Regions from separate parts of the Homo sapiens genome. Here regions 2, 3, 4, 5, 6 and 7 are each reported to be linked to region 1. The links are microRNA targets in miRTarBase. Many come from high-throughput screens and were not tested one by one. Region 1 holds a microRNA gene; each other region holds the end of a gene's coding sequence.

Region 1 (3,145 bases):
TATATATACACACATATGTATTATATCCCCATAGAGACATCACCTACATATATGCATGCCTGTATATATATATAGACACACTCACATGTATCCCTTCTTATTGCTGGAGAGACAAGGCAGGTGAAACACTTGGCGACAACATAAGATAATATACATATAGTTAGATACTACACTGAATATACTAAATATTCAATAGAGAATCTTATGATCAGACAATAAATACCAGTGGGTATGATCTGAAAGGAGAGATCTGGAAACACTTTCATAACTTGAACACAATAACATTTATCTTTTTGAATTACAAACAGAAAGAGCTCATGGTTTTTCTGTGTTTAAAATACCTGTAAGAAACATAAAACACCAGTGAAAGTAATCTTAAAAAAAAAAAAAAAAATCCCTGCCTAAAGCACAAAGGGCCTACGTTTTTGTTATTCCACCCCTTTTACTTTTCATACTCTGTGACTGGAAATGTTTTAATATCCAAAATGCTAGCAGCTTTTTCTCTTTCTATTCCCTTTGCCTTGCTGTAAGGTTGCAGAGCGAGGTTGAGAACAGACTTAATATCATGTAGTTACAGTCATTTTATGACATGACTTTTCATTCTTCTTAGTTTTTACAAGTTAGCACTTTGCATCTTTTAGAACCTCCACATCCTCAAACACAAACTATGCCTTTTCCACCCAGGTTTTCCTCAGCATCAGCCCAGTATTAGGCAGACAACAAGCTCAACAAATACTAGTTGAGATGAAATGGCTATTTTGTCTTTCTAGTGAACAGATCCTGTTTGAATACTTAAGAAAGCACAATAATACCCTTGTGGTTTCCTAGGGAAATGGTCCAACATCCACTGGCAAAAGATATGTTGCAGAATTAGCTGGCTTACCAGGCATGCCAAATATACGATACTACACAGGATGGTTGAATTTTATTAAATGTCATTCCAAAGCCAGACTTCACTGGCACAGTGAAAGGAGGCGTTCTTTTGAAGAGAACTGTGTCTTACAGTTTTGTTGCCTTCAAAATGGCCTTTTGTTCCAAATTATAAATTAGTATTTAAAAAAGTATCGTAACTTCAATGACATGTTATTTTTAAGGATAATTCAAATCAAAACCCATTATAAGTTTTTTAAAATTCACTTAAAAATGAGTTGGAAAAAATTTCATAAGCCTGTATAACCTCAGTGTCATTGAAGCAGTAATTGGACAATCCAGATCGCATTTCACATTGTGTGATGTGGACCAAAAAAAAGAGAGAGAGGCAAAGAAAGAGAGAAAGAACCACTCAGGGTTTGGCTGCGCAGCGTTTTTAGAGGCCTGTTTTCTAAGGAAGGAAAAGCACTTCGAAATACAGTGTAAGGTCAACATATTTGCTAGACCCGGGAGGTGAGCTGATTCCATATGAATCCCTATGGCTCTGTTATACCAAAAGAATATGAAATACCAAGAAATGGCAGTAAAGAAAGGAAGAAAATTTTTTCTTTTCAAATTCACTGACTTTCTCACTGAAAAGACCTTTCTTTCAGTTCCCTGCTTTTGCTGTGTCTTTCCTTGTTGCTCTTCCAAGCCTTTCATTGTTTAATGACGACTAATTCAATGGTAGGCAGAGAGCAAGGTATTAGAAAGTAAAAACTTCCTTTCCTAAGAAACCATTAGGGGGCTGTGGTTTGCCAGGGCAGGAGGTGGAAGGGAGCCCCATTTACAGTGGTAACTTCCTTTCCCTTTCCATCCTGGCAGGCTTCAGAGAACTTTACCAGCTGGTCGGTCTTTCGTTGCCATGGATACCAAGGATATCCCTCAGATTTTACAACAGATCTTCACCTCCACCATGTTGTCGAGTGTCTAAGAAGTGCCCTTCATCACCCTGATGACACCAGGATTTGAAATAAGACAGGAATAAAGAGTATTCTGAAAAAAAGAAGATATGGATGAAGTGAACCCATGCAGTGACTGGATGATTCCGGCATTCCTGGGTCTTCCTACACTTGCTCCGTAATGAGAATTCAGAGAAGCAGCCAGAAGGAGACTTAAACATGGAAAGATACTCCACTGATGAGTTTAGAAGTGATTAGGGCAAGCTAGTTGACCTGCACTTTATCAAAGGTTGGGGTTAAAGGAAGGTGGTTTTGAGAACTATGTGTTTGGTCTATTTCCAAAAACCTGAGGGGGAGAAAATACTTTGCTTTTGCCTTAACACATCATCTGGTCACGTTAGAAAAGTGACCCCATCAAACTGAGCCTTTGATGTCACATTCTGACACAAGATGCAAGTCTGTGCAAAACCCACCAAAATGCTCCTATCCAACAATTATTTTTATTTTCTCCCTGCTCTGTATTGACCAGAAAACAATGATTTTATAATATTTAACCCACCAAAAAGTCCCTCCAACAGCAATATCTTATGAAAGTCTGGCTGTTCTCAATAATTTCATTTTCTTGGCCAAAGCCAAAAGGAATCAAAAAATCCTTGGAGTGCTTGCCTTTCCACGTGACTTTTAAAAGGCTCTTAAAGAGCAAATGTCCTCTTCTCCTTGCTGCTAGAGTGGGAGGAGAAAGATGTCTTGCCTTAAAAGTTTACTGTTTCTTCTGTTCTTCTAGCATCTCTCAAAAAATTCACAGTACTCCATTTTGGGGTCCAAACTGTAATGCTCAAAATAATAAATGCTTACACGAAAATTATTTATTGAGAATATTCATATAAAAATTACCTAAAGCAAAGTAAAAAAAGTAAAATCAAGGTGGTATATTTGAAGTGAATGGTGATTGGAAATTTTTAGCTGTAACAAAAAGAAAGAAAACAACTTTTTTTAAAGCCTCATTCTCTTTTCTTTCAAAATGTACCTTATTCCCACACACTCTTGGGCTGACCTTTATTTTATCAATAAGCTCAATATTACTTTGTTTAAAATAAGATGCTTCAGCAAAAGTCATTCTCTCTTTAACCATATAATTTAAAAACTCCTCTTCACGATTGATAGCAAAATCAGAAACGTTAGGGCACCAGTGAGTTGAAAAAACTGGTCTTAAGTTGGAAAAACTATTATTAATAATATTATCCTATCCATCCATATCTATTGAAATTGTACAGGTCCATAATTTCATTTTAATTAATTATAGGAAAGAAGAAAAGATAATACCCATTTGTTCT
Region 2 (3,145 bases), not on the chromosome of region 1:
TTAAATGCAGAGAGCCCTTATTGGACACCTACTTTATGCAACGTCCTACCTCCCTACCTCTTCTTCTGGGCCTCGCTTTCCGTTCCATCTGATCCCGGGGCTGAGACAACGCGTCCTGCACCCTAACTCTGTGTCTGTGACCCCCAGGGACTCCGCGCTGCTGACAACGACCCCACGGCACCCCCCTATGACTCCCTGCTGGTCTTCGACTACGAGGGGAGCGGCTCCACCGCAGGCTCCGTCAGCTCCCTGAACTCATCCAGTTCCGGGGACCAAGACTACGATTACCTCAACGACTGGGGGCCCAGATTCAAGAAGCTGGCGGACATGTATGGAGGTGGTGAAGAGGATTGACTGACCTCGCATCTTCGGACCGAAGTGAGAGCCGTGCTCGGACGCCGGAGGAGCAGGACTGAGCAGAGGCGGCCGGTCTTCCCGACTCCCTGCGGCTGTGTCCTTAGTGCTGTTAGGAGGCCCCCCAATCCCCACGTTGAGCTGTCTAGCATGAGCACCCACCCCCACAGCGCCCTGCACCCGGCCGCTGCCCAGCACCGCGCTGGCTGGCACTGAAGGACAGCAAGAGGCACTCTGTCTTCACTTGAATTTCCTAGAACAGAAGCACTGTTTTTAAAAAAAAAAAAAAAAAAAGAAGAAAGAAAGAAAAAAAAAAAAAAAAGAAAGTGCCTTTTGGTACATGTATCAGATTCCCTCAAACTCAGGAGTGTCTAAAGCAGACAGACCGTCCCCACCTTCCCATCCCGAGCGGCCTCCAACCCCAGCTAGTCCCAGCTCTGAAGGCATCATTCAGAAATGGGGGAGACTGTGTCTGTCTTTCTTACTTTTTTTTTGGTCTTTTATTAAGAAAAAGAAAGTGGGTGACTTGTTTGAAAACAGAGTGGGGTTCAAATCCCAGCAGCCTTTGCTGTACACAGCTGGGGGTCTCTTGAGCCTCTTGGGAGTCAAGGCCAGCTGGGAGGCTTAGCCCTTCAGCCCCAGCAGAAGGCCCTGGGGCTGGTGGGGCTCAGAATACCCCTACCTTGTGGCTGCTCCCCACCCCTCCCGGATGCTGTGAGGAGCTCAGGCAGGGGCCTGGAGGGGAACAGGGGTCATCCTGAAGGGGCTCCACCCCCAGTCAACCCAGGCCTCCCTCAGGGACACCTGTCACCCTGAGTGCCACCAGGTCCCCTCTGCCTTTGGTCCAGAAGAGTGAGTTGTCCAAACCAGCCAGCATCTGGCTCCAGCCCTCCAACCCTGGCGACCAGACCCCATGGGGTGCCATCAACGGCCCCGCGACAGGCATCAATTCAAACCCCAGGACACTCTCGACAGCTCCAACCATCCGGAGGGCTGTGCAGATGGCAGGAACCAAGGACCCTCCCTGGCAGCTGAAGAGGGCAGTTACGGTTGGGCGTGGTGACCAGAACACACCCAGCAGCCTGCGAAGCCTCCCCGTCCCCAGCCTGTGCTCCTGATTCCCGCCAGACGCTTGTGAGCCTGTGTGGGTGGCAGGAGGCCCCGTCTTGCCGTGCCTACCTGTCGCACAGATGCCTCTGCACGCTGCAGACGGTGCCTCTCCTCTCCTATGGACCCTCGTCGGGGGCAGGCAGCGGCCGGGTCCAAACTTGCTGCTGTCCTCGAGGCTGGCACTGCTATCTCCAGGGCTGGGTTGACTCAAGCCAGACAGGGGGAAGGAATTGGTTCTGCAGGACAGTGAGAGGGTCTGTGTCCCGGCACCCCTGGGACAGCGCTCGGCTGCCTGTGCTCACTGCATGAGAAAACTCAGAGGGTGCATTCTCCCTCTGGCATGGCTGTGTCTGGGCGCCTTGGGCTGCGGCAGGGGGCAGGCCCCACGTGGGGAAGCCTCGTGCTTGGTCAGCTTTCTGTCTCTCCCAGGCCAGTGACAACTGGCTTCCCGAGGAAGGAGGTGAGGTACCAGGGACCCTGGGCAGGACCTGGTGTCGGGCAGGGCGGTGCCAGCACTGGGGAAGGACAGGGAGCCCTCCCGGAGCCCCACCCTGCACCTGCCACTGGGGTCAGGGAGTGTCTCGGGGTGCCTTTGGGGGCAGCATGAGCTCCACCAGGGGCCCCGGCCCCCACCTCAGCCTATGGCCCTTCCCCATGGCTAAGGTCATGCCTTTTCTGAACAGCTTTGGCCTTGAGTGCACACATCTGTGCCAGGCTCACGGCATGTTCCCGTTGGATGTCAGGGTCCTTGTCCAAACCAAACTCACAGCTGCCCCTGTGCAGCCTTCAGAGTTGAGCTGGGGTCTCAGTCTCCAACCTGTCCTTTCTGACCCTCCCATGGCTGCCCAGGGAGGGCGGGGTTCACTGTGCCACGTGCTGGGTGCCCCCCTCTGCAGACAGCCAGTCCAGGAGATGGACCAACAGAGGTCAAGGGGCAGCTGGCCAGGCCGCACCGGGGTCCCCGAGTTCTGAGCTGTGCTATGCAAACAAGAATGCTCCTGTGTGGGGGGGCATGGCCGTTGGAGGTATAGCTGGGCGGGTAGTGGAAGGACTGGAAATCTCTGTTGTTGTTTGGGGAAGTCCATGCTTCAGTCCTTCGGAGTATGCGTGGATTGTTCGAAGTGTGACTATGGCCCGGGAGCCAGGGCAGCATGAACTCCTTTCTCTGAAATTTCGAGGCCTCCTTGGGTTCCCTGAACTCCGGGCTGATGTTCCCAGGACCCAGCACCAGGAGACCCCAGTCCCGCCAGCAGCCGCCGCTACCCAGGAGGGCTGGGCGACATTGGCCGCCTCCCACTAGCTCCCCCTCCTCGCCCACAGCCTCTTGTCACTGCCAAGCCCCCGTTCCTTTTGCCCAAATCACGCAGGCGGAAGCTGCAGTGCCAGCTGGAGGGATGTTCATAGGGCTTCCTGTGCCCATCCCTGCTCCAAACAGCTGGACAGCTTCCCCTCTACCCCCACCCTGGTGAGCCCCTGGGGGCCAGAGAAAGATGGGGTTCCTGCACCTTCCCAGCTCCACCTCTGAACTTGAGTTAGCGTTAGCTAAGCATACAATCAGTGTCGAACGTCTCTCTTCCTTAAGCTTGTAGATACGACTGCCTATAATCAGGGGACTCCCACTGGAGGCCGGGAGGCCAATGCTGGCCAGGTGCGAGGGCATGGTTTGGTTCCTTTAGGGAAT
Region 3 (3,000 bases), not on the chromosome of region 1:
AACATTCCATGATTCTAACACAGAGACATAGAAATTGGGATTTATTCATTTACTCAACAAATCCTTATTGAACATCTAAACGCTAGGCATCATGTCCTCTGAAGGAGGAGTCTCTCTATCGTGCTCCCCAAGTCCCTCTCTTCACATGTGAACACCTTTATCATGTTACTTGAGTCTTTATTGGAATTAGGGCTTCTCTAATCTGACTCCTCCATTGACTACATTGTTGTTTTTGCCAATGAGTAGGATTCTCAACATACAGTAGGTGGTCAAAAATCATTTGGTGAATGAACAAAGAAAGAGGAACTCTTCAGATGCAAAGATAAGCATCCCAGAATGAACAACCAGAATGAGAGGTCTCGAGCATAATAATATCCAGTAATATTTCATTGACACAATCATATGACTACACTATATGCTACTTAGGAATTTCTGAGCCAACAGCAGACCCTGGTTGCACTGAGACCCAAAGTACTAAGACCTGCCTCTCTTTAACCTTGAACACAGACAGATTCTTGGCACTAAGTTTCAATTTGGCGTATTGAGCCATCGACGCTGGATCCCTTTGGCTGCCTCTCCCAATCTGCCCTCCACTCGTTTCCACCCTACTTGGTGCCCTGGGAGGCCAACTTACATAACTGCCTCCGCTGGGCTCCAGTGCCCTCTGGCTCTGGCTGGGTTTGGTCAATGGGGGAGTACTAGCACATTAGAGGAAGAGATGATGGCAAAGTTGGGGTTTGTTTGTACAAATTTATGGGGTACCTGTTAACTTTTGTTCTATGTATATAATGCATAGTGATTAGTGATCAAGTCAGAATACTTAGGATATCTGTCGCCCAAGTACAATACATTTTTGTGTAATTATAGTCACGCTACTGTGCTTTCACACATTCAATGTATTCCTTCTATCTGACTGTACATTTGTACCCTTTAACCCATTTCCCTTCACTTTAATCCATTTCCCTTCATCCTCTCCCCACAACTTACCTTTCCCAGTCTCTGTTCTCTATCTTTCCACTCTACTTCCATGTGATCAACTTTTTTAGCTCTCACCTACAAGTGGAGAACATGTGATATTTGCCTTTTTGTCCGTGGCTTACTTCACTTGAGATAATGACCTCCAGTCCCATCCAAGTTGCTGCATATGGCACGATTTCATTTTTTATGGCAAATATTTCATTGTATATATGCACCACATTTGTTTATCCATTCACCTGTTGATGGGCACTTAGGTCCATTCCATATCTTTGCTATTGTGAATAGTGCTACAATAAACATGTGAGTATAGGTATCCCTTTGCTATAGTGATTTATTTTCTTTTTCCGTTTCTTTCTTTTTTTGTTTTTTAAGACATGGTCTCATTTTGTCTCCCAAGCTAGAGCGCAGTGGCATGGCATGAACACAGCTCACTGCAGCCTCAACTTCCCAGGCTCAAGTGATCTTCCTGCCTCAGCCTCCCCAGTAGCTGGGATTTCAGACACGTGTCACCACGCCTGGCTAATTTTTGTATTTTTTGTAGAGACAGGGTTTCACCATGTTGCTCAGGCTGGTCTCGAACCCCTGAGCTCCAGCAACCTGCCCACCTCAGCCTCCCAAAGTGCTGGGATTACAGATGTGAGCCACCACACCCTGAGGTGATTTATTTTCCTTTGGGTAGATACCCAGTAGCGGGATTGCTGAATGGAAGAGTAGTTCTATTTTAAGTTTTTTGAGAAATATCCTACTGTTTTCTGTAGTGGCTATACTCTTCCTACCAACAGTGTAAAAGAGTTCCCAAAGTTAGGATAGTTATTCTCTCTTTTCAGGGTGACCCCAGGCTATAGTGTCCCTTGACCAAATGTCACAGCTCCTGTAGGACAGCCCTCCTCACACACTGTGTGTGTGTGTTTGTGTGTGTGTGTGTGTGTGTATACATGCATGCATGTCTGTCTCTGTCTCTGTCTCTCTGGGTTTCTTTCCCCTTTAGTCTTAAAGACAGTAGCAGGGCCCCACTCTTCCTAGTCTCAGGGTGCTGCATTCTCCCTTTTAGTTTTCCCACACCCTAGTTTAATATGCCCTTCATTAAACTAATCTCAAATTATTCAATTTGAGTGCAATATCAATTTCCTGATAGGACCTTGACTGAAAAACCACCCACGTATTCTGAAGAGTAAATGATATAACCAATTACCACAAAGCACAATAAGTGGGATGCTTATAAATGCTAGTTTCCCTCCCCTTCCCTGTTATAATTTTTATACCCCCTACAATGGCTATTCCTAGTGCCTTTAACATAATTGCTACTTAAGAAAGATTTGATGAATGAATAAAAAAAAATTTCAACACTTTTGACCATACTTTTAGACTTAAATTCATGGAAATCAATATGCATTAATTTAGATTATCAGATGTTACATTTAGAGAAGTTTTTATTTCAATAATTGTGGAGGAGGCAGTTTGCTTTACACATCTCATTCTCTATTTTCTCATAGTCTAACTAAGTTATGGCTCAACTCCGGAAAAACAGGGCCAAGGGATAAGCTATCATCTCAGGAGCAGTTTAAAAGACTAACAGATTAGTTTAACAGACTAAGAGATCCATCTACTGATCCTTCCTAGATCTTAGAGAAAATAGTCATTTTATTTCATGTCATCTAATTCATATGAACTGACTTTGCAAATTCATCATTTTCTACCTCCTACCAGATAGAAATGGAGTTTGGGATCAACTGTGCATCCTTGAATTTATCTGTGTTTATAATGAAGAAGTCGATAAAGCCGAATCATCACTCACCGTGTATATTGATCTCACTGATGCACTGTGGAAGTAACTTATAGTTCTGGAATTGGGGGAAGCACTTCCTGGACTTGATCCAAAGGCAGCCTCTGCGTGGTCTCTGCTATTTAAGAAGGAGAACTGTTTTAGTCTATATGTAGTAAATAGCAAAAAGAGACAGGCTTATTCTAATGTAGTAAGAGTAGCAAGAGAAGCATGCTCTACCTCTAGAAAGGATTTTGGGA
Region 4 (3,145 bases), not on the chromosome of region 1:
AAATGTCTGTCATCAAAATGAATTCATACAGAATGAGTTAAAGAGGTATTGAGGTAATTCTGTTCCATTTTTACCAATATCTGTGGTTGTGCTTTAAAGGTACAGTGGTGAGTATCAAGTTTGGAACATTTTAGGCCCCTCTAAAACTCATCATTCCTAGTGCCATTTATTGAGAATGTCTCTGGTCATGCTGTGGCAAAAACAGCCACAAGTTTAACCCTCTTCCATGGTATGGATGGAACTTGTCACTGAACTGTCTTTGTACTGCACCAGTGGCCTTGGCATGACTCTGGGCTGCTAATCCTAGTGAGGGCCTGAAAGGAGTGCTGGGACTCACTAGCTGAATCTATTGACTGTGCGCTTCATAGTTTCCTTTTGCTTCACCACACAACAAACACGGTTTTCATACACTATGGAAGACAGTTTCCTGTAGATTCCCATCTGCTCTCTACCTGAAACCCTAGATTTATGCATGTTTGTTCAATTAAGAAGAATGGGGGGAGTCTCTACATTGACCTCTAAAATCTCTTGAAATGTCATCTCCTAATGCCATAAATTTCATTACACAAGAGAAGGCAGAGATATTTTTATAATAATAATTGCATTTTCCAGTTGTATGACATTTTGATAACACTCCAGGTAAGATAATTAGGGACTATAAAAGAAGAAACGTTTTTAAAACTTTCTCGGAAATGTACTGACCTAGTGAAATGTCTTTAGGAGAATTTGTGAGTAAAATTTGTGAGTAAAATGAAAAATTGTATGGTATATTTTGCTTTTATGCTATCCCAAGTGGAAGTTCACAATCCTGATGTATTCCAAATCATATTTACATATATATGTGTACAGATATATATATGTATATGCATATGTAATACCTACCATTAATTTATTCTCATCCTCAGAATTGCTGTTTTTTTATTCTTTCTGTCTCTCTCTTCCTCTTCCTGTCTTTTTCTTTCTTTCTTTCTTCTTTTCTTTCTTTCTTTCTTTCTTTCTTTCTTTCTCTCTCTCCCTCCCTCTTTCTTTCTCTCTTCTTTCCCTAAGATATTAATAAAGCTAACTAGTTTTGGCTCAGATTTCAATATTCACAAAATATATATTCTAATTAATAAGAGTGTCACAAATCATTTGGAAAATAATTGCACCTCTCAATTTGCAAATCCTTAGATCAACAGCTTAATTAGCGTTGCCAGACTTTAAAAAATGTTTCCAAAAATTCTGCTCCTTCTCATTTTCAGATATTTCTCCAAATGTGACCCCTTTTGACCCTTTCCCTCTATTCCCAAATGTATTTTTTTCTCATCTCTCTTATAAACTGTAGCCTAATACCTTCTTTCTCTTTCTCCATTCTCCTTTTCTATTTGAGTGGAGGGAGAGAAGGCAAGGATTGGGCTCTGTTTTATAAACTCCAGTTTCTCTGTTTTAATTCCTCCACTGATTTGTCTGTCTTTCTATCTTTTCTAATAATAAATACTGGTAATTTATTTTTTCTCTATTGTATGCTTCTTTCAAGGCTTTCTCTTTTGAGAAATATTTAAAGACAACCTTTGGATTTCCTTATCCTTGCCTATTTGGACCATTTCTTCTTACTTTGCTAACACACTGTTTCTAGGCCTTTTGCTTTTATCTGGCCACCAAAATAAATATCTGACACCTGTCCTAATATATGACTCTCAGATACAACTTTGTTTCTTATTATCTGTCCTCTGACTTGGCCCCTGTGACATACTGGTTCTTTCTTTTACCTTTTCAGAATTTCACTTCTTCACTTCTTCCAAAAATCTTTCACTGCTCCTTCATTTGTCAACTCGCCTTTTAATCTGCAATACCCTCATTCTCCAGAACTTTAAACATTATTTTCTAGACACGAACTATGAAGTTCTCCACTTCTGTTACCTAACCCAGGTGGAGTGAGTTGAGCTTGCTCACATGAGTTGAATGAGCAGAGTACAAGTCTTATGGACAATGTATTTTCTCCAAAGAAGAATCCTATTGCTGATGAAATCTCCTATGGTCTGTTACAATATTTGCAACGTTCTTTTACCAAATTCTATCCTAACAACCTTCTATAGGACATTCCTTTTCTCTTTCCTTAGCCCTGGAAAAAGGCTCTAGACTTCTTATTGAGCTCTGAGGCAATTTTTCATTGTAAAGTGATAGAAAGGAAGAAGACATACTGCATGGACAGCACAAAAGGAGCAAAGTTTTTAGTTATAATCACTCCCACTAGCCAGACATACCATCTTCTTCTGTATTTAGCTGAATTTTTTTTTTAATGTTTGGTCAGGACAGCTAATGACTGGAATGACTGGAAGAGGACCTGACAGTGGTGGTGAAGGGAGGTTAATAGTAGTTGTATGCCAATTGTAGCTACAGGATGGGAGATGGGTGGCATAAAATATATCTACATGTATGTCAGGTATGAGGTCAGGGGTGGATGTCATTCCTCTATTTTATCCCTCGTGGCAGGAAAGTGTTAAATATGCATATTTCTGTTTCCCGTTCTGCCTCTAAACTCCAAGATATTTTGATGGTTAAAAAACTACTAAAACGAAAAACCTGAAGTTTAATATGACACCAAGCAAAAAGACTTCGCTTTCTTGAATGGTAATGAAATCCAGCCCTAATTTATTCAAGAAGGAAGTAGTCAAGGGCATTTGGAGCAGGTTGGTTTTTCTCTGTGAAAGTTGGAGTCTTTCAAAGAATATCCCGAGAGACAGTCATTTTGCATGTAGTTATAAATAAGTAGAAATAGGCACCAGACATCCCTGTCTTCTAGCAATGGCAACTATACATATCTACTAACAAGTAGGCAAGAAGTATGTGGAGTTTGTGTGTGTGTGTGTGTATTGCACGTGTGTGTGTGCATTCATACAGGTATTGCCTTAGAAATGGGTAGTCTCAAATGCCATATTGTTGTAGCTTTTGTCCTTAGGATCATAGCCTGGAACATGTACCAGGCTTTCTCTTCTGAGTCCGTTCTGTAAGACAGATTCAGCCCCCTGTTTCCGGGCACTGCCATTCTCAAGGTTTTCCTGAGGGAAATACAAAGACACATATTAGCAAGATATCCTTGATGTACTCCAAATTAACCTGAGAGAATCTTGTTTAGGCCTTGGCTTCAAAAAATTATATATATGTA
Region 5 (3,000 bases), not on the chromosome of region 1:
AAAGTAGGCCAGGCCCTTCTTCTCATAGTGCCAGGGCCCCAGGAATGGCTTCTCACACTCAGGGAAAAGAGCTCTGCATGCCACCACTCTTTGCCCAGTGTATTCACTATGTGGCCTTTGATGGGCTGGCTGCAGTCCCTAGAAATGGGGACAGCATCTTGTCAATGCAGGGCAGGCAGTAGAGTTCACCCTTCAGCTCATGGGCCTCACCAGTCAGCTCCTTCCTACAGTGGATGCAGCTGAAGTGGCCTGGGTGACAGGCACTGTTCCTGAACATGAGGGACTGCTCATGAATGACCAAGTGGCACTGCTGAGGTGCCAGACACTTGTGCCAGTCCCTTGGCCTTCTCATGGTGTGGCAAGGCTGGCAGAGATGCCTATAAACCAGGGGTGGTACTATGCATCTTGTAGGGATGTGGCTGGTCAGCAGCTTCTCGTCAATACAGGCCACAGAGCCTGTAATTGTGCCTGGTTCTCAGCAAGTGGGTCTTTAAATAAATAAAGCTACTTACAGTGACCTGTTTGGAAAAACAATACAGCCAGTTTGAAGTATATATTAAATTCAAATTTTTTTAAAAAGAAAAGAAAGCTAATCTATTTGATCTATTTCACAATAACAACCTTCAACTTCTGAAAATAATAAAGTCACATTCAAGTAGACTTGTAAAACAATTTTAATGTTTACTCAAAATAAATGAGATGTCATCATTAGCCCTTATCTCTCACACTTGAAAAATGGAGACAGTTGTTCAGAATAGAAAGGGAAACAGCTATTAGAGTTTAAGCTCAAGTTTCAAGAAGAATTCAGATAAGGCAGGTAAAAACTCTAGATACTTTTCCACTGTCCAACATCACCAAATATTAATTTCCACATACCTCTTTATTTCATAAAAATATAAATATTTATTAGAAATAGTATGTTTAAGATTAGTTTTTCTTTCTAAATAACATGATTTCTTGCTTTAAAGGAAGATTCCCTAATAGTGCCACCTATTTCATAAACTGTCCTGCAGTTTTGTGCTTTTTAAAAATTCTAATTTACTTTGATTTAAAGAATAAATATCTCATACCCATGGTGAACTATTTTATCACCCCAAAATACAAATGATCCGTATTTTACAATGAAGAAATTCATAGCATCTACCACCACATCACTGTACTATGATTGGACTGACTGAAGTATGGGCCTGTGAATATAGATTGAAAAATAAAAAAGAAATGCTAAAAAAAAAAAACTTAGCTACATAATGTTTAATATCAAAACTCACCAGACAATCCAATTTTAAAGAAACTGATGGAAAAATGCTTCCCCTAACATGAACTATGGTTAGATAGCATTGTCTGTCAGGAAATTCACCAATTCAGTAGCTGATCTTTATGTGGAAACAAAAATAGGGCTTTGTCCTTATTCATAAGTACAGGGAAGAGACCACACCTTTACTTAAAAAAAGAAAAAAAAACCTAGATTAAATGTGACCAGGTAGCCCCCAAATGTATAGTAAACCACCAACTAGCCCCTGGCTCCATAATGGCCATATATTGTATTCTTCCAGTTATTTCTGACAACTCGGAGAAAAACATTACAACCTTAATAATAATTTAAAAAAATCTAAAAATCAAACAAAACAACAGGACCCTGTGGTGATGAATTTTGTTCGTACCAAAAGTATAGTCAGAAATTCTGAAAAAAGACAAAATGCTTGCATACAATGACAGTGCAATCAGCATCCAGGCCAGGTCCTGTGTACACAACCTCTCCAATGCAGTGTAAGTTTCCTCTTAGCAGCCACCAACAATGAGCTCAAACGTAGTGAATCTGTAATGTGGCTGGTTTTCTAACACTATAAATATTAATAAGAGTGGCTAGTGCTATTATTTACATCTGTTGGCCGAATATTACTCTTGAGAAATAAACACTGGACTTTTTCTTAACAAGTGGTTTCTCATTGACAAGTTCTGGTCATTAGTGAACTAGAATGAATCTTAGCTCACTTCCTTGTTTTGCAGGACATTTAACTCCTTGCTTCTTTTAAAAACTCCAGTGGTTTTTAGGCAGCCACTACAATAAATTCTCCCCCCTTTTTCAATTTACTTCCCTTTCTTTTCCCTAAGGTAGAACTTCTGTAAACCTAAAAACATATGGTAATTTAATATACAAGGTTTCTCAAAGTGCAAAATATGTTACAGATAGTTTCTTAGGCTTCATTTAAACACAGCATTTTATACAATACAGTACAGTTTGAGATTTCTGCTCATAAATTATACCACTTAACAGACAACTACTTTAAAAGGACTGACCACCTAAGTAACCCAATGTCTTCTTACACACGTTAATACAATGGAACTTTACAAGGTTTGTTCAGACCAAAATAAAGTTAATCTTACATTCAGTCACATATATACATATTTTTAAATGCTCCTTAAATGCCTAAGCATAGACAAATTTGCCTATCAATAGGCAAATTCTTATGAATTATCTTATAGTTCAGTTTTGGAGTTACACATAAAGATTGCATACAATATTAAAAAAATAATCTGGGGAGCAATTCATTTTATTTCCTACTTCAAAATCTGCTCATCCTGTAATTCTTTTGGAAGGGTTCTTGACCGTTGTAGAACCACATTAAGTTCTTCAATTACCCTTGATGGTAACTTATGATCAGAGTCCAAAGTAGCTTTGCTATTCCTGTCCTCAGTCTTCCTCAATGTCTTTAGGCCTTTATGGCCTTTTGGTTGCCCAAGTGGGGCTTCAGGCTCTGTGTCCTCCAGGCAGTTGAAACTCCGATGTTTTCGGGGTCGATTTCGAAGTTTATCGTCCTTGTGCTCCAGGCAGTGGGCCACCATGGAAGCTCTCTCCTTTAAGCTAGAGTCCACGGACTCTTTATCACACTTTTCACTGAGCCGCAGCCTTTCAAGTTCTGCTCTTGCACTCTAAAAATAAAATTAAATGTCTCACAGGGAAGCAAGATTTGGCACAATTTAGGTTTAGAAAGTGCAATC
Region 6 (3,145 bases), not on the chromosome of region 1:
TTTAAGATGAATATTGTCAAAGAGCCAAAGGGGCTGAAATAGGCTTACGCTGACTCGGTTTCAATCAAAAACATACTCTTCATAGAAAGATGGACTCAAACTGCTATTTGGATTTCAAAACTCCCCATTTGGAAAAGAACATTTAATCTAGGTTTTTCTTTAATCTGTTTAGGCATTTTAAACAGCAGCTTGATACTTCATGGAATTATAAAGCTATGTATAATGCAGAAATCATTCCAGAACATATGTTTCTCTCTTACTTTACAATCAAGATTATTTCTGAGGACAAAGATCCTGTTTTCAAACAAATGTGATCATTAACTGTGGCGCATCAGAAAACATATGGCGTGTTTAGTTTCGGCTGAACTGAATCATTCCTAAAGAAAGTGACTAAGTTCCCATGAGGAATCAAGACGTTTTCAATTCATGGGGAAAGCCAGCGAGGAAGGGGAGCGAGGAACCCTGCACATCAGCTGAAGGCTCACAAGCGCCTCAGAGGTCTTGTGATTTCAACACGGGACTGAGGGTCCCAGCGTGGTTTATGTCCTGCCAGCGAAGAGCTTCAAAGACTAGTAATTCACCTCACAAAGGCTCTTCCATGGATTCACCCCATTCCTGCAGGGCACTGAAAATGCAGCCGCAGTCCCACCACGCCTCCTCCTTTTCCAGGGTTGTGGAGCTTGCTGGAGACGCAGCATTTCAGAAACTCAATCCACCTCTTTCCAAAAAACTGTACCTTGTATTTTCTAGAACCAACTTCTGGGCTTTCCACCCTTTGTCTTTTCCTACTCTTTTTTTTTTTCCCTTTTCTTACCAGCAGACCCATAAAAAGTGAAAAACCACAAAAACATCACCTTGGGAGACACAAAAGACTAAGACAGATCTGACCACATGACAAGTGTCTCAGCTTTGACCTACACAGGAGCAGGTAAGACTCTGGAGTGACGGACGGCTGCCGCTGCTGCCGCCACTGCGACTGCACAACACTGTTTAGACGGTTGAACAAGTGCAAAGAGAACATTGCTGAGTCCCATTTGTGTTATTTGGCTGCACATCTCATGGTGTTGGAGGTGGTTTCGGAGATGGGCACGAGCTCTCACTGTCGAAGCTAGCAGCTCGGCCCTGCCACTGCAAAGAGGAGAACAATCTGTTTATTAATTGCTAAAGGAATTTACATTTCAACTTGCAAAACTGAACTGGCCCAATGCACTGAATTCACCTTTCCTAGCTTCTCATAAGCTTTCTTGAATTTTGCTGTCAGCCATGCAAAAACATAAGGGAAACAGCTTAGAGCTTCTAGTTTGGAATACCTGATTTTCAAAAAGACCTACTGCAGAGATAATTAAAGCTTTCTTAACTCTCTCTCTCTCTCTCTCTCTCTCTCTGTGTGTGTGTGTGTGTGTGTGTGTGTGTGAGAATGAGGTGCTCTGACTGGGCCATTTCTGTGTGCTTCAGCCATTTTTCACACTGAAAATCATATTATGTTAGCAGCGAAAGAGGCAGTGTGCAGAATATGTCCTTACTGCCAAGAACCCATGGTCATGCATTATTAGCAATTTGTCTGGGAGCTGACAGTACAGCTAAAAATCTGATACTGCTTTAGCTTTGAGCTGTCTCCTTTGTTTTTCATTCTTCCTATGGGCATTTGCACCTGACTTGTGGAGAGGTAGAGGTGTGAGCAGACCCTTCTGGGCTTCTGCAACCCCTTTCTCCTCCCCAGTTCTCCTAGGTCACAGACTGCCTCCTATCAGCCTGACTCTAACCCTTCTGTGAAAGGGGTGATGTAATGAGGCGTAATGGAGTGAAGGACAGGGCTGAGGCTGGGTGGACTTGAACCATTCAATCCTTCTTTAACCAGTCATCGCTGCAGCAGTCATAACCCCAGCAATATTTACTGAGCAAAGATCTGACCCCATGAATATTCTTGACCTGCCTGGGGGCTTTATGTTAATAACTTCAAAGTGAGTCAGTGTCCACTGCTCACCCATCCTTGGAGTGGGCTGAAGAGACCCAGTACTGTCCTGGGTGTCTGCAGGACAGAGCTCCAGAGTTAAGAGGTAGGTAGGTGGTCAAGATGGCCTTCCTGACCTGGAAGTGCAGCCCCTTCTGCTTCTCATGAGCGTTGAGGGTCTCCACTATGGAGTGAGGGGGCTGAGTAGAAGCTGCTACTATGCATCATGCATACATGGAGGTTTGGGGTCGGGGGAGGATGTGGTTCTCCCTCAATACAGCCATTCCTAGAAGGGCCGAGCCACCTGAGGAATAGATCACTTTCTATCCAGCATCACCTGCGGAGTAGATGGGAAACCCATGAAGTTCAGGAAGGACCCAGACCTACTAAACTACCTTAATGCTTTCAATTCTAAGGAAAGCTTCTGTTACCCTTCTCTGGGCTCGGTTCTTCATGGGCTTCTTAGGACTCCCTGTTCAGGCCAGCTGAAGATCTTTATGACTAACCAAAGGCCAGACAATCAGGTACCGATGACCACCATTATGTGACCTAGACCTAAGCAATCTTAGCATGTCAGCACTGGAGGCAGGCTTGGAAGCTGATCCAGTCTAACCTTCTTGTTCTCGCAAATAAGAAAACAAAGACAGAGAAGTCAAGACACAGCTAGCTAGGGGCAGAGCCAGAACCCGAAACCAGGTCTCCTAACACCCAACCAAGTGTTCTTTCCACTCCATCCTGCTGCTATCTCAGCATCTGGCCACACTAGGGGAAGAAGGAGACAAAAGGTAATAAGCAACCTAACGTCTTTGGGTCCACACCAGGTACTTACTCCTAACTCCAGGTGGCAGTCTCTCTGCTTGCAGCATCCACGTGAATGAAATCACAACCGAGGGTTTCCCTGGTGAAATATTTTAGATAAATAAATGCCTGGTTGTTGAGGCCACTGTGGCTTCTGACTCAAGTGTTTCTTAACCAGAAGGTGACAACACATGATTACTAATGCTCTTATTTAACAGACCTTCATTTTAGGAGTTCTACTTTTCTGTTACAACCTTTACTGTTGGTGAAAGGTACATTATAATCACTGGCTTCTTCCCTGAGTAAGCATGCCACTTAAACAACCTGACTGATAGGCCAGGTCAGAGGAGAAAACATAAAAGGACTACACAGAGTGTCTTTCTTCCTTTATGTAAC
Region 7 (3,000 bases), not on the chromosome of region 1:
GGGACTACAGGCACGTGCCACCACACCCAGCTAATTTTTGTAATTTTAGTAGAGACAGGGTTTCACCATGTTGGCCAGGATGGTCTCCATCTTTTGACCTTGTGATCTGCCCGACTCGACCTCCCAAAGTGCTGGGATTACAGGCGTGAGCCACCATGCCCGGCCATGCCTGTGATTTTTAAATTCTTAAACATGTATTATTTATAACTTAAGACATAAAGACACTATAGTCACATAGGAGAAAACAATTATAATCCAAATGAGAAACAAAAGATCTAAATTAAGGAGGTGTGAAGATAATGTAGAGGTTGTATACTATGACCATTTTAGAAAGAGGATTGTAGGTTTTATTGACTAAGAAGATAAAGGGATGCAAATTAGTTATACAGGTTTTAATTCCAGACAACAGAATAGTGGCTATTAACAATAAAATCAGTAAGTATTCTGGACATGTTTAACTTGAATATTCAGGTAGGGGATTTTATTGGAAATACGGATCTAGAGCTAGTGGAAGAAGTTATATTTAGGAGTCATCCACAAAGAGGCTTGAGAAACAAATGAAAATGTATTGAGAAGTGCATAGAGAACAATGTTAAGGGGGCTGTGGGGAAAAAACAACATTTGGAAGATAACTGAAGGAAATCATAGAGGAAAAATAGTACAATCTAATTTTTCTCCCTAACTGAAAGCAAAACCACTTTTAATACTAAGAATTTATTATGATCTCTCCATGATACTACCGTTTTTTCAATCCCAACAATCATCATCACATCCCAGAGCCATCTCATGACAAGAGCTTTCTAAATACTAATTGCCTGAACACTGAAGAAAATTAATATCTGATACTAAGGTGTAACTTATTTCTCTGTAATTAAAAAAAAGGGGGCCAGGCACGGTAGCTCATGCCTGTAATCCCAGCACTTTGGGAGGCCGAGGTGGGTGGATCACCATCAGGAGTTAAAGACCAGCCTGGTCAAGATGGTGAAGCCCCATCTCTACTAAAAATACAAAAAAATAGCCGGGCGTGGTGGCGGGCGCCTGTAATCCCAGCTACTCGGGAGGGTGGGGCAGAGAACTGCTTGAACCTGGGAGGTGGAGGTTGCAGTGAGCTGAGAGCGTACCACTGCATTCCAGCCTGGGCAACAGAGTGAGACTCCGTCTCAAAAAAAAAAAAAAAAAAAAAAAGGCTTTCTGTTCTTGAAATATTCAAACTAGACAGGACAATTTTAACTGAAGCTGTTCTCACAACCCTGTTTTTCAGCTATTATAAGTTTGTTAATGGACAAACATGTTCATAACTGAAATTTTAAAATTACATAAAAGTATAATTCTATAACCTGCAGAACTAACATTTGATGCATTTTTCCTAGTCCTTTCAATGCTTAGTTTTTATTACATGTATGTAATATCACTTATTGAAGGCTTACTAAATACTGAACCCTGTATTAAAACACTTTCCTGTCTTGTCCTTCCAAACATCCTGACACTCAAAAGTTAAGTGATCTGCACAGGGTCATAGCTAGAATTTAAAAGCTGCTACTTACATCTCAGATATGACTCCAAAGCCCAATCTTCACTACAAAACTGCAATACCTGCTTTCCCTCTCCCCCACTTAGCATAGTTTCAGCATTTCCCAGAACATTAACAGTAATAATTTATTGGCAACTTGACCTCTTATTGTATACATACAGCATGATTTATTTTCCTATTCACCTAGTACTAGCCAAATGTGTATGTATATTGCTATTATAAACAACCCTGTGATTAACATCTTTCTATCAAGATCTGCCTCTACTTTGAACAGTTTCCTTATTGCCAATAGTTATTTTAAAATAAATAGTTATTTTAAAGGGAAATTGACACATACATATAACACACTCACGCAAAACTGGCAAGTAGCAGATAAGTGCTCTTCTAATTTCAGTTTCCTAGCTTTCATGTAGAATGAACAATTATAGTAATAAAGGCTGAAGGAAAACAAAGATATTATTGAGATACAACAGGGACAGTCTAAAACAGCATCAGAAAGCAAGTTCATGCTGTTCAACATTAGCAGGCAAGGGAAATAGGGAAAGAAATACGCAAACGTGGCTATCACAGAAAAGCCAGCTTATTACTTTAGGTTCTGTGGGAGACTACAGGTCACATAAAAGCAGTCTCAACAATAATGTGACCACATGTGCAATCAACATTTACAAAATGAAATTATATATCATGTATAACACAAATGTTTTGCCTATACTTTAATTTACAAAGCCACATACCGAATGACTGAAATGTACATAAACATTCTTTTATGATAGACCAGAACATCTATATTATCATGACTTAGAAAAAGAAAACAGATGCAAAATAGTGTTGAGAATTTCTGGCCTGAAATTACAAGACTAAGTGTGTGTGTGCATGCGTGTGTACATATATTTAAATCGTTTTATTCTCATTTGATCCTTTTGGCTGAACTTTATTCATATATTATCTGCCCTTCTTCTTATAATCTCTCTCATGAAAGATATCATTATCCAGTCATTGAAGCCAAACCCCCTTCACCAGCCCCCAATCTCTAGACATCAAGGGTTAACAAGACATCTTCCTAAATTTCTCCGGAATTAAGCTCTTCTCTGTTAGAATTTCCTTTCCAAGTCCATTTCTTCATAAATCTGGCATGTGAAATTTGAATTGCTCTGCCGCAGTTTTCTCTTCTTTAGTCAGTGGTGACAGCTAGAAAATAAATGATAAAATCTTTATTTCAAAAACTTTCAAAGACTTAAATCAGTTTAGTTAACTTCTGCATTGTCACACCAATAAATGTTTCCCTAAGCTTATACTATGTATGTAATCACAGATTTAGAAAGGCAAGGGAAAAAACAGATACTTGGCTATTTATATACAAGGTCCTATGATGTTTGAGCTTCTAAAGAACTTGCAATTAAGTTGAAGAAACAAGACCAAGAAATCAAACAATTTAAGGATTATAGCAGAACCAAAGAAGTCATGTTTGG

The links. Region 1 holds the annotated microRNA hsa-miR-5006-3p (UUUCCCUUUCCAUCCUGGCAG, at 1,714-1,734, shown strand). A microRNA usually pairs through its seed, bases 2 to 8, with sites in the 3' UTR of a target mRNA and lowers its output. Matches are read on the target gene's strand: a 7mer-m8 pairs with bases 2 to 8, a 7mer-A1 pairs with bases 2 to 7 and ends in A, and an 8mer does both.
Region 2: miRTarBase lists CDH4 as a target of hsa-miR-5006-3p. The part of its 3' UTR that is shown has no 7-base or 8-base seed match.
Region 3: the mRNA of TMEM156 is a reported target of hsa-miR-5006-3p. The part of its 3' UTR that is shown has no 7-base or 8-base seed match.
Region 4: the mRNA of SLC5A12 is a reported target of hsa-miR-5006-3p. Seed matches in the 3' UTR shown: 7mer-A1 at 1,273-1,279 and 7mer-A1 at 1,038-1,044.
Region 5: miRTarBase lists ARAP2 as a target of hsa-miR-5006-3p. Seed matches in the 3' UTR shown: 7mer-A1 at 2,103-2,109 and 7mer-m8 at 2,093-2,099.
Region 6: miRTarBase lists SYT6 as a target of hsa-miR-5006-3p. Seed matches in the 3' UTR shown: 8mer at 800-807.
Region 7: the mRNA of SKA2 is a reported target of hsa-miR-5006-3p. Seed matches in the 3' UTR shown: 7mer-A1 at 1,598-1,604.

What each region holds. Positions count from the first base shown.
Region 1 is chr13:41,566,895-41,570,039 of GRCh38, reverse strand. MIR5006 (microRNA 5006) reads left to right here and starts at 1,645; the gene lies at 1,645-1,754. VWA8 (von Willebrand factor A domain containing 8) reads left to right here. Exons shown (of 45, transcript NM_015058.2): 45 at 1,735-3,145. The coding sequence ends at 1,843.
Region 2 is chr20:61,936,590-61,939,734 of GRCh38, forward strand. CDH4 (cadherin 4) reads left to right here. Exons shown (of 16, transcript NM_001794.5): 16 at 148-3,145. The coding sequence ends at 354. Among named protein-coding and RNA genes, the nearest start is that of MIR1257, 16 kb to the right of the region's middle.
Region 3 is chr4:38,968,259-38,971,258 of GRCh38, forward strand. TMEM156 (transmembrane protein 156) reads right to left here. Exons shown (of 7, transcript NM_024943.3): 6 at 2,774-2,879. The coding sequence ends at 2,812. Among named protein-coding and RNA genes, the nearest start is that of TMEM156, 63 kb to the right of the region's middle.
Region 4 is chr11:26,668,214-26,671,358 of GRCh38, forward strand. SLC5A12 (solute carrier family 5 member 12) reads right to left here. Exons shown (of 15, transcript NM_178498.4): 15 at 1-3,038. The coding sequence ends at 2,889. Among named protein-coding and RNA genes, the nearest start is that of SLC5A12, 52 kb to the right of the region's middle.
Region 5 is chr4:36,065,348-36,068,347 of GRCh38, forward strand. It overlaps ARAP2 (ArfGAP with RhoGAP domain, ankyrin repeat and PH domain 2), which reads right to left. Exons shown (of 33, transcript NM_015230.4): 33 at 657-2,931. The coding sequence ends at 2,560. It also overlaps the pseudogene LOC651644. Among named protein-coding and RNA genes, the nearest start is that of ARAP2, 180 kb to the right of the region's middle.
Region 6 is chr1:114,090,955-114,094,099 of GRCh38, forward strand. It overlaps SYT6 (synaptotagmin 6), which reads right to left. Exons shown (of 8, transcript NM_001253772.2): 7 at 2,781-2,849; 8 at 1-1,128. The coding sequence ends at 2,832. Among named protein-coding and RNA genes, the nearest start is that of SYT6, 61 kb to the right of the region's middle. RefSeq lists an enhancer at 917-1,418.
Region 7 is chr17:59,109,627-59,112,626 of GRCh38, forward strand. SKA2 (spindle and kinetochore associated complex subunit 2) reads right to left here. Exons shown (of 4, transcript NM_182620.4): 4 at 231-2,719. The coding sequence ends at 2,651. The region is part of intron 1 of LOC124904039 (a long non-coding RNA gene); the gene reads left to right. Among named protein-coding and RNA genes, the nearest start is that of TRIM37, 4.2 kb to the left of the region's middle.